2 separate regions of the Homo sapiens genome follow, and region 2 is linked to region 1. Evidence: fine-mapped expression QTL. A gene starts in region 1. The other region holds a variant in brackets. All regions are shown on one strand. Distances are between the middles of the regions. Region 1 holds the start of ZCCHC4 (zinc finger CCHC-type containing 4). Region 2 overlaps ZCCHC4 (zinc finger CCHC-type containing 4).

Region 1 (5,381 bases):
GCGGGTGGATCACGAGGTCAGGAGTTCGAGACCAGCCTGGCCAGCATGGTAAAAGCCCATCTCCACTAAAAAAAAAAAAAAAAAATTAACTGGGCATGGTGGCATGTGCCTGTAATCCCAGCTACTTGGGAGGCTGAGGCAGGAGAACTGCCTGAACCTGGGAGGTGGCGGTTGCAGTGAGCCAATACTGCTCCACTGCACTCCAGACTAGGCGACAGAGTGAGACTCTGTTTCAAAAAAAATTAAAAAAAAGAAAGAAAGAAAGCTCACCAGTTTGACCAGACAATCGGCTGGGAGAGTAGCTGAGTTCCAGCAATCTTAGCAGCCTGGGACCACGCTCTGTGTGATAAGTGTCTCATGCATCCATGTGAAGAGATCACCAAACAGGCTTTATGTGAACAACAAGGCTGTTTATTTCACCTGGGTGCAGGCGGGCTGAGTCCGAAAAGAGAGTCAGCCAAGGGTGGTGGATTATTATTAGTTCTTATACGTTTTGGGATAGGAGGTGGAGTTAGGAGCACTGTGTTGCGGGCAGGGGGTGGATCTCACAAAGTACCTTCTCAAGGGTGGGGAGAATTACAAAGAACCTTCTTAAGGGTGGGGGAGATTACAAAGTACATTGATCAGTTAGGGTGGGGCAGAAACACATCACAATGGTGGAATGTCATCAGTTAAGGCTATTTTCACTTTTGTGGATCTTCAGTTGCTTCAGGCGATCTGGATGTATACGTGCAGGGCGTAGGGGATATGATGGCTTAGCCTGGGCTCAGAGGCCTGACAATAAGTGTAATCTAGGTCTCTCCTGGTGCTTAGGCCTCAAGGGACCTATTTTCAGTTCTGTCTCTGGCTTCCTTTCAGAACCTTGCTGAATCTCTCAGTATGTTTCTACTCAAGCATTTTCCTGTGCAGACTAAAGACACTATCAGGAAATTAAATGAAACATGTATAACTTATTGGTCATATTCATAATCCCATCAGTAAATATTTAACACAGGCTATTTACCATATATATATCTGAAAATAAGGTGAGTTTTTTTTCTCCCCAAAATTATCCCTCTGCAAACAAAATGGCCTGATGTTTGAAACCTTCAGCAGCTCTCACATTTTGCAGTGCCCTCCCATTTACCTTATTTGGATCAATCTTTGTTGTGTTTTTACTGTTTGGGGAAGCTTATCTGTAAAGGCTGCACATCTGTACTGGTTTTGGCTGCTTAGAGAGGTTGCCTCACAGAATCAGCATTATTTAAAAGAGAAAGAGGAAATACAGACTCAGTAACTCTGGTTTTACGAGTTACAAATTCACTTGCAAATTTTATAAACAAGTCTTTTAAGATCACAAATTTGTACATCTAAAACAAATTTGTAAATAAAAGTGCTAGAGTTCATGTGAGTAGGTAGTTAGGTCTTTTAGTTTTTATTCTGCCTAGGGCACTGTCTCAAGGGGTCCTGAGAATGTGTGCCCAGCTAGTTAGGTCTTGAGATAGTGTCCGAGAGTATCATCATCATAGCTGTAGAAAGTTTCCTATCTCAAAAGACCAGACATGTGCAGATAATATACACTGAAAAAGTGTTCTGGACAACTTGAAAAAGGGGACACTGGTACATCAAAGATACAGATGCTACTGGTGCAGATGGAGAATTTGAGTAAAACCATTACATGAAATGTGAAAGAAAAACAGCCATGTTTTTACAGTAATAAACCATAGCACTCAATGTGTGAAGTTAACTAGGCACATGCCCCAATGGTTCTTTAAATAACATAAGAGACTATTTCGTCTACAACCATAGACATGTGGCTGCGTCTTGATTACTGCACTATAAGACTTGAAATTGAGTAGGCTGATTCCTCCCACTTCATTATTCTTTTTCCAAAATTGTTTTAGCTATTTTAGTTCCCTTGCCTTTCCATATAAATTTCAGAATATTGTCTAAATGTACAAAAAGAATCTGGCTGGGATTTTCATAGCAATTGTGCTACACCTGTATAAGCATTAAACCTGGGGAGAACTGATATCTTTACTATGTTGAGTCTTCTGATTTATGAATGCAGTATGTTTCTGCATTTGTTTATTCTTTGATTTTTTTTTTTTTTTTTTAAGACGGAGTCTCACTCTGTCACCCAGGCTGGAGTGCAGTGGCACAATCTCGGCTCACTGCAAGCTCCGCCTTCCGGGTTCACGCCATTCTCCTGCCTCAGCCTCCCGAGTAGCTGGGACTACAGGTGCCCGCCACCACGCCTGGCTAATTTTTTTGTTTTTGTATTTTTAGTATTTTTAGTAGAGACGGGGTTTCACGGTGTTAGCCAGGATGGTCTCGATCTCCTGACCTTGTGATCCACCTGCCTTGGCCTCCCAAAATTCTGGGATTATAGGCGTGAGCCACCGTGCCCGGCTATTCTTTGATTTTTAAAAAACTTTAAAAATTGCTTATTTATTTTAGAGATGTCGTCTCGCTTTGTTGCCCGGGCTGGTTTCGAACTCCTGGATTCAAGCAATCCTCCCTCCTTGGCCCCCCAAAGTGCTGGGATTACAGGTGTGAGCCACTGCACTCAGCCTTGATTTTTTTTAATCAAGCATTTTGGAGTTTTTAGCATACATAAAGCTCTGTACATATTTCGTTAGATTTACACCTATTTCATTTATTTGAGTGATTGTAAGTGGTATTCTATTTTTTAGTGTTCTTGTGATCATTGCTAGTATTTAGAAATCCAGTTGATGTTTGTGTGTTTATCTCATATCCTGCAACCTTGCTGAACTCAGTTTAAACCGGAGGTGTTTTCCTGATAGATTCTTTCGGATTTTTAAAATGTGGACAATCATGTCATCTGCAAATCAGGACGGTTTTCTTTCTTTCTTATGTATAAATGTCAATGAGTATGCAACTATGATGTGCAACTTTCAGCATTGTCCAAAAGTTACAGAGGATGATGCAGTGACTGTGACTTTGAAAAACAAAGAATGATCCTTAAATCACAGCTGCTGCAGCCATTTCAGCTATTTGGCAGAGGTGGTAATGCTGCCTTTTGGACCTACAATACAACCAAGTCTTTGTTCGAATCATCTCACTTCCTGGCTATATTCTTAAGAAAGGAGGGTGCTTCATGCGCTGAGCTCATGGCACAGGTCCCGCAAGTGACCTGCGAGCCCCACCGCTAGGGGCCGCTTAGGTGCAGCCCCCAGGTGGGCGGGGACTGCGTTTCGGGGCGTGGCCTCCGCCGCGGCAGCCCCCGCCCAAGCTCCTCCTAAGCGCCTGGGGGCGCTGTGGGTCGCTTTGGGTCGCGGGGGCGCTCTTTCTCAGCATTCTTGTTTCGTACTGAGGCTTTCGGGACGGCGGCGGGAAGATGGCGGCCTCCAGGAATGGGTTTGAAGCCGTGGAGGCAGAGGGCAGCGCAGGGTGCCGGGGAAGCTCGGGAATGGAGGTGGTGCTTCCTTTGGATCCTGCCGTCCCCGCCCCGCTGTGCCCTCACGGTGGGTCAGAGTCTGGGCTCAGCCTAACTGCCGGGCGCTGAGGGTGTGAGTTGGCTTGGAAGTGGCTTTTGGGGCTCCTGTATTTTTACCCGCCTCTTTCCCTCACCAGTGTGCTGCCTAGAAAATACTCCTTCCTCGGAACGCGGTGTTTTTCAACTTACTTGAGAAACATTCAGAGCAAGTCTCCACTCTTGTGGTTTTGGCTCCAGGACTATTTCATCTCTTTTGGGGGGAAGGGGCAGAAAAGTAGGCAAAGAGAAGAATGCATGGTATTGAATAGTTCTCGTTGACAAGTACTTGGGGATTTCATTTGTTGATTTGCTCTCCCTTCAAAAATAAAAAATTAGGGAGAAAAACAGTGTAATTCTTGCCTGCGAACTAGACTCAGTTTTTCTCTAACTTACAGAAAGTGGGCGTTTCCAGCTCAAAGCTCAGGTTTTCACTGCAAGGGTAACCGCGCAAGAGATGTCAAAGTCCTCAATTCTCTGAGTCCCTTCCTTGTTTTAGTCTCAGGTTTGTAATATTCACAACGTAGACAGCAACTGTACCGACAATAGCATTTTCTTTCTGAAGAGACCGGTTTTCAAAAATTATTTATAAGTAGTCACTGCCGGAATGTTGTAACAGAGAGAAAAGAAACATTCATTAAACACAGAGAAGCCGGCGTGGTGGCGTGCACCTGTAGTTCCAGCACTTGGGGGGCCGAGGCGGGCTGATCGCTTGAGCCCAGGAGTTTGAGACTAGCCCGGGCAAAAATGATGACACTCCGTCTACAAAAAAAGAAAAACAGCTGGGGACACGCAACTGTAGTCCCAGCTACTCGGGATGCTGAGGCGGGAGAATCGCTTGAGGCTAGGAAGCAGGATCTCAGTGAGCCATGATTGTGCCAGTGCGCTTCAGCCTGGGCGACAGAGGGAGACCCTGTCTCAAGAAAACAAAACAAAAAACCCTAACAAAACAAAAAACAACCAACCAAAGAGATGGATTTAATTATGATAAATTGTGCCTAAAGCTCAAACAAATTTTATTTAAGGGCAGCGAAAACTAAGAACTTGACGTAGATGACCATTACTTGACACTTTTTTTTTTTTTTTCTATTCTGGAACTAGGACCCACTCTTCTGTTTGTAAAGGTGACCCAAGGGAAAGAAGAAACTCGGAGGTTTTATGCCTGTTCAGCCTGTAGAGATAGAAAAGACTGTAATTTTTTTCAGTGGGAAGATGAAAAGGTATATCAACTTTTTGGATATTTATTTTTTATTTTTGGTATGTGTGACAATTTTGTTGAGAACGTGTAAACCAATAAAAATATGCGGTCTGAACATACAAGATAAATCTCTTAAGAGAGATGGAGATACTATGTTTGTTGGTTCAGAAAATGAGTTCATGTTTACTCTGATTACTGATATCTTAAACTACTGTCTCAAAGTCTTATTTCCCCATAAGACTCTCTGAGGTGGTAATATTGGGTGGGGCTGATCTTCTGTGTGTTAGCTTGGGCTTCTGTAACAGAAGTACCATAGGCTGTGTGGCTTAAACGACAGACATCTGTTTCTTACAGTTCTGGAGACTGGGAAGTCCAGGATCAAGATGCTGGCAGATCTAGTGTCTGGTGTAGGTCCTGTCCTCTTCCTGATTTGCAGAGGGTCATCCTTTCTTTATATCCTCATTTCCCAGAGAGAGGAAGCAAGCACTGTCTGTCTTAGAAGGACACTAATCTCATTCCTGAGGGCTCTACCCTCTTGACGTAATTACCTCTCAAAGGCGCCTCATTTAAATACCATCACATTGGGGTTAAGGCTTCAACATACGAATTTTAGGGGGCACAAACATTCAGTCGATAGCACCGTTGGCAGATACAGATTGCTCACTAAAGAGAAATCATGATCATTCCAGAAAGTGTTAAAAAACACTT
Region 2 (5,381 bases), 40 kb after region 1:
GAACCCAAAGATAAAATCTCATAGGAGCAAAGAGAGGCTTCAGAATGTCACTGAGGAATGCTGCGGTGGCAAGATGACTTGGTAAAGTTTCCAGTATTAAGAGAGAGACTGAGTCTAATGCATTCTCCTCCAAATAGGATGAAGTGCCTCTCTCTAGTCCTAATTTAGAAATGAATTTTTATTTGTTCCAGACTGCCCTTGAAGTATGCAGAGCATTTTTACAGGAAGATAAAGGCGAAGGAATCATTATGGTGACGGATCCTCCGTTTGGTGGCTTGGTTGAACCTCTGGCTATTACATTCAAGAAGTTAATTGCTATGTGGAAAGAAGGTCAAAGCCAAGGTGTATAATTTATTACTGCAAAATAAATACATATCTATATATCTACTTCCTGTCAAATATTAGCTGAGCTCAGTGAATCAGAGCAGTGATAGAATATACATGTCTTGAGTTCTCTTTTTAAAAACAGGCTTATTTGATGTTGCAGCAAACTTCATTATCATGATATACTTTGTATTATTCTAATCATGTGGATTTTTTTAATGGCTTATAGGTAAAATACTATGTTTTTGATGGGGATAATGGGACATTATGCAGAACAGCAGTGAACTGCTGTCATTCTATTCAGTAAATATTTACCGAGTGGCCACTGTGTGCCAGGCACTGTTTAGGTACTAGGAATAGATTTTTGAACAAAGCCGACACATACCTCTGCCCTGTGGATCATACATTCCCTGTTCCTAAAGCCTGGCCCAGAACACTAAGAGGGCACTCAACCTGAGGTCCAGGGCTCTACGCTTTGCCAGGATATGAGTTTGGAGGTTAGACATCCCATAGGCTGATTGTGGTTATCAGTGACACAGATTCCCAGCCCTATAGGTAGGCTAGTGGCTGGGGGTTATTATTCAGTTTAAGTGACTTAGCCGTGTACGGTCTTCAGGCAGGTACTGCTTCTTTTTTTTTTTTTTTTTTTTTTTTGAGACAGAGTCTCACTCTGTCACCCAGTCTGGAGTGCAGTGGTACAATCTCGGCTCACTGCAACCTCTGCTTCCCAGGTTCAAGCGATTCTTCTGCCTTAGCCTCCTGAGTAGCTGGGACTACAAACATGTGCCACCATGCCCACCTAATTTTTTTTCCCCTGTATTTTTAGTAGAGACAGGGTTTTGCCATGTTGGCCAGGCTGGTCTTGAACTCATGGCCTCAAGTGATCTGCCTGCCTCAGCCTCTCAAAGTGCTGGATTACAGGCGTGACTTAGGACTTCAAAGTATTTTATATAATTATCTAATTAGTTGGTACATTCATTTTTTAGAAACATTTTCTAGCTCGCAAGTTGATAAATTTGTTAAGAGTGTCAGGAATTTTGTGATCATGCTTCTCCACTAATAGTGCTTTGAGGGACAATGCAAATGAAATATAAAACGTGACTCATATTGTTAAGTATTTCACTTATTTGCTGTTTTTAAGTCCACTAATTAGAGTGGATAAAGTCAATGTCATTGGGGAAGCAATAAAGAGCTTTGTGGGCTTGAATTCCTGTTCTGCCACTTATTAGCTGCATTGGACTTGATAGCTTATGGCTTCAGTTTCCCTATCTGTAAAATGGGATAACATCTAATTCTAGGGATTATTGTAAGGAGACAGTACATAGAATGTACTTATTATAGCTTAGTGTAAGCACTATGATTAGGCTTGCCTCTGATTAAGGCTTTTCAGCCTATTGGAATTTTAGCTGTAATAGTGCTATAATGAATACTAGCCTATACTAGGTGCTTTGTAAGTAATAGCTGTGTTCCCTGTCTCTCACAAACACTAATTTTGGTAAAACTGTTTTGAAGAATCTTCCATGATGCAGACAAGGTTGATTCATCCCTGAAAACTAAGATAATGAGTTGTGGCAGAGCTGGGATTCACACCGAAGACCTACTGCCTTCTAGTCCAGAGGTCCTTTCACTGCATCATGACTACCTTTGTGCCTCAAAAGTGGCACTCCTTTTCTATTTTCAACTTTTTAGGTAACATCTTTGCCTTACCTAGACAATAGTAATATACATATAAGGGTTACTTTTACATACTCTTAGTAGCTATATTTCGATATAAAGGAATATGTCCACTGACCTTTGGGAATAGACAGGTTTGAAATGGCACTCTGGTAAATATTTTCTGTTTTTGTATGAGATTTAAATGTGTTGAATCATTGCAATTTCTTATGCTAGCGGAAGTTTTTCTACTGTAGCCTTCTATTTTTTCTTTAATTTACTATTATTTTTTCCTTTTTGTGATCCATTAGATGACAGTCACAAAGAACTACCCATTTTCTGGATTTTCCCCTATTTTTTTGAATCCCGAATTTGTCAGTTTTTTCCAAGCTTCCAGATGCTGGATTACCAGGTAGAGTACATATTCTGTTTTCTGGCATGGTTGGGGAATGGAGATTCTACTTGAATAGATATAAGACTATTCATTGATTTTAGTAAAATACAATGAGCTGTATTAAACACTAATATTATACCATATATAGCTCAGTCCAGTGTTTTCTAAATATCAGTAATCCCTAGAGTGCATGTTGAAAATACAGATTGAGTACCAAAATAAACCCACTAAATCAGAATTAGAGGACAAAGCCCCAAGAAAAAATATCTCACCAAGCTCCTTGGGTGACTCCAAGTGTGCTAGGGTTTAGAGCGGCTGATTTAGTCTTTCATCATCACTAGGAGATTTTGCAGCCCCCCCACCCCTGGTTCATCATTATGAACGTTGGTTTCCTCTTTTCAGGGCATATAGAAAAGTAAATCACCTTTGTGGTTGGTGAAATGCCATGCACACTTTACTGCATCACTCTTGGGATGTCAGGAGTGTCAGAGAAGGCAGAGATGGCTCTGTGTGAATGTGTTGATTCCGGGAGGAAGTTACTGGAGTGAGTAACTT[C/A]ACAGCAATGACTATGGAATTTTCCCCCTGCCTGAAATGAGAATGAGGCTGCTGTCCACAGCAGCTCCACCTGGTCTTTTAAGTTCATTCTGCTTTAAACTCCACTTTCCTGTATTTTCTTCCCTTGTGTTTGAAGTTAACCCTGTTGTCGCCATCACTGTTTATGGTCTTCAGGCAGGTACTGCTTCTTTTTTTTTTTTGAGACAGAGTCTCACTCTGTCACCCAGTCTGGAGTGCAGTGGTACAATCTCGGCTCACTGCAACCTCTGCTTCCCAGGTTCAAGCGATTCTTCTGCCTTAGCCTCCTGAGTAGCTGGGACTACAAACATGTGCCACCATGGCCACCTAATTTTTTTCCCCTGTATTTTTAGTAGAGACAGGGTTTTGCCATGTTGGCCAGGCTGGTCTTGAACTCATGGCCTCAAGTGATCTGCCTGCCTCAGCCTCTCAAAGTGCTGGATTACAGGCGTGAGCCATTGCACCCAGCCTGCTTCCTCTTTTTGTAAGAGTTTTCTATTTGAGTTTTCTGAATAATCGACTAGCCCCTGATTAAGGCAGAGTTTTAGCTGTAAATGTCTTCACTAGCTGTTGCAAGCTAGCACTTGGTTCTAATCTTTCTAATCCTGAAGGCATATACCATTATGAAAATTATTTTAAAATTCTGAAAGAAACAGTGTTACCAAAAATGAGAGTAAAAGACTCTACTTGTGATTCCACCCAAACAGCAGACACTGTACTTTCAAAGTGTTCACTTTTAATCTTTTTTTAAGAGTACTTTTTACAGGTTTGTAATCGTAGAAGACAATTTTGAATTCTGCTTTCTTCATTATGTCTTATAAGTATACATTTTTAAACATAGCTACACAATCTTTATGCTTTAATAAATAAATTATTTCATTTACAGGCTATTCCCTTCTTTTTGGACTACAGGTTGTTTTTACCTTTTAAGGTAATATAAATAACACTGCTGTAAACACCTTTTATGCATATAATTTTTTCATGTTTTATATAACTTGCTTAAAATAGATTTCCAAAACTGAGATTACTTTATCAAATATAATGGACTTTTTTATGGCTATTAAGTAGCATTAACAGGTTTTGTTCTAAAAGTGTGTAGCACAAGCCATTTTATACTTGACTTCTTGAGCTCTGCTTTGAGCAAAATTTATATCATAAGTCTTCTCAAAGCTCATTTAACTCGTTTTTGGGGCATCAAGTTTTCTGTTTCTTGTCTGAGGGATGCTTCTAGTATTGACATTTGCAATACGGAGATAGCTGACATATTCTAAAGAAGTTAACTACGTAAACGGGTTCTAGTTTTCAGCAGCATCTTCCGCCTTTGGCAATGGATGGTCATCTAGTGCAATGTTTGGCACACAGTAGGTGCCATGTATATGTCAAATGGATAACTGAGTGAAATAGCATGAACCCTGGAGTCAAAAAGGATCTGAGTTTTAATCCTGGTGCTGGCACTTACTTAACCCCTCTGAAGCTTATCTTACCTGTTAAATGAATGTGGCAATATATCTGTCTTTTAAGGTTTTAAGGATTTTATGAAATAATACCTGGAAAGGCTTAGCCCTGTCCTTAACACACAGCAAGTATTAAGTTTAGGTTCTTGCTGTCGGCATTGTCATCACCATCACTGTCATTGTCATCATTCAGATAGTCCCAAGGTAGGGGTAAAACTCTCCCTCAGGTCCTTTTTTGATAAATCTGAGAGATTAAAATTGCATAATTGTATAAATTGGGGCAAAAGTAATTACAGTTTTTGCCATTCATTTTAATTCATTCATTCCTTTTAATGGCAAAAACCGCAATTACTTTTGCACCAACCTAATAATTCGTGCCCTTAGAAAACTGTTACATCCATATTTAGAGAGGAGTTTTTCTTTTTTCACTATGGGCAAGAGTTTGAAATGGTGAGAGGACAAAAGAAGACAGATCCAGAATACAGCAGATGAGAGAGGCAATTTTGGAGTAACCAGCTGTCACTTGTTAGGCAGTCTGTGTTACTAGGAAAGAACTTTTGGAAATATTAGGGTTACAGTTTTGAGAAATAGTTGCAAGGTCCAAGTGTGGACAATAATTATGCACTTCAGTGTATTGATGAAGAAAGGTTCTGATTAGGTCATATGTGTCTGACAGGCTAAAAAGCAGTCTTCTCAATAAAGAGAAAGCCAACCTTTGGGAAAAAAAATGAGAACAAAGTCTAAAAGCAAATTTGTTTTTCCTAATTCCTGCTAAAGGGAAGAACAGTACTGTCCATTACATGCTCATGTTGGAGAAACTGTGCCGTATCTCCTCATGTATTTATAAACATTATTTGATTACGTTCTTGGACAATTTTTCTATTTTTTGAAAATTTCTCTGGACCTATTATTCCTTTCTGAGCATTTTGCTTTCCTCTTTTTCTTTTGTTACTTTAACTTCATTAAAATTTTTTTTTTAAATA

Evidence for each region. PIP is the estimated chance that this variant, and not a neighbour inherited with it, causes the effect.
Region 2: its variant is fine-mapped to the expression of ZCCHC4 in whole blood (TOPMed, PIP 0.95).

The regions. Positions count from the first base shown.
Region 1 is chr4:25,309,470-25,314,850 of GRCh38, forward strand. ZCCHC4 (zinc finger CCHC-type containing 4) reads left to right here and starts at 3,305. Exons shown (of 13, transcript NM_024936.3): 1 at 3,305-3,467; 2 at 4,577-4,695. The coding sequence starts at 3,341. RefSeq lists enhancers at 552-611, 1,232-1,371, 2,959-3,835, 3,364-3,423 and silencers at 3,084-3,153, 3,161-3,365.
Region 2 is chr4:25,349,301-25,354,681 of GRCh38, forward strand. ZCCHC4 (zinc finger CCHC-type containing 4) reads left to right here. Exons shown (of 13, transcript NM_024936.3): 7 at 192-342; 8 at 2,289-2,389. Among named protein-coding and RNA genes, the nearest start is that of ANAPC4, 25 kb to the right of the region's middle. The variant C/A (reference allele first, on the strand shown) is at 2,927.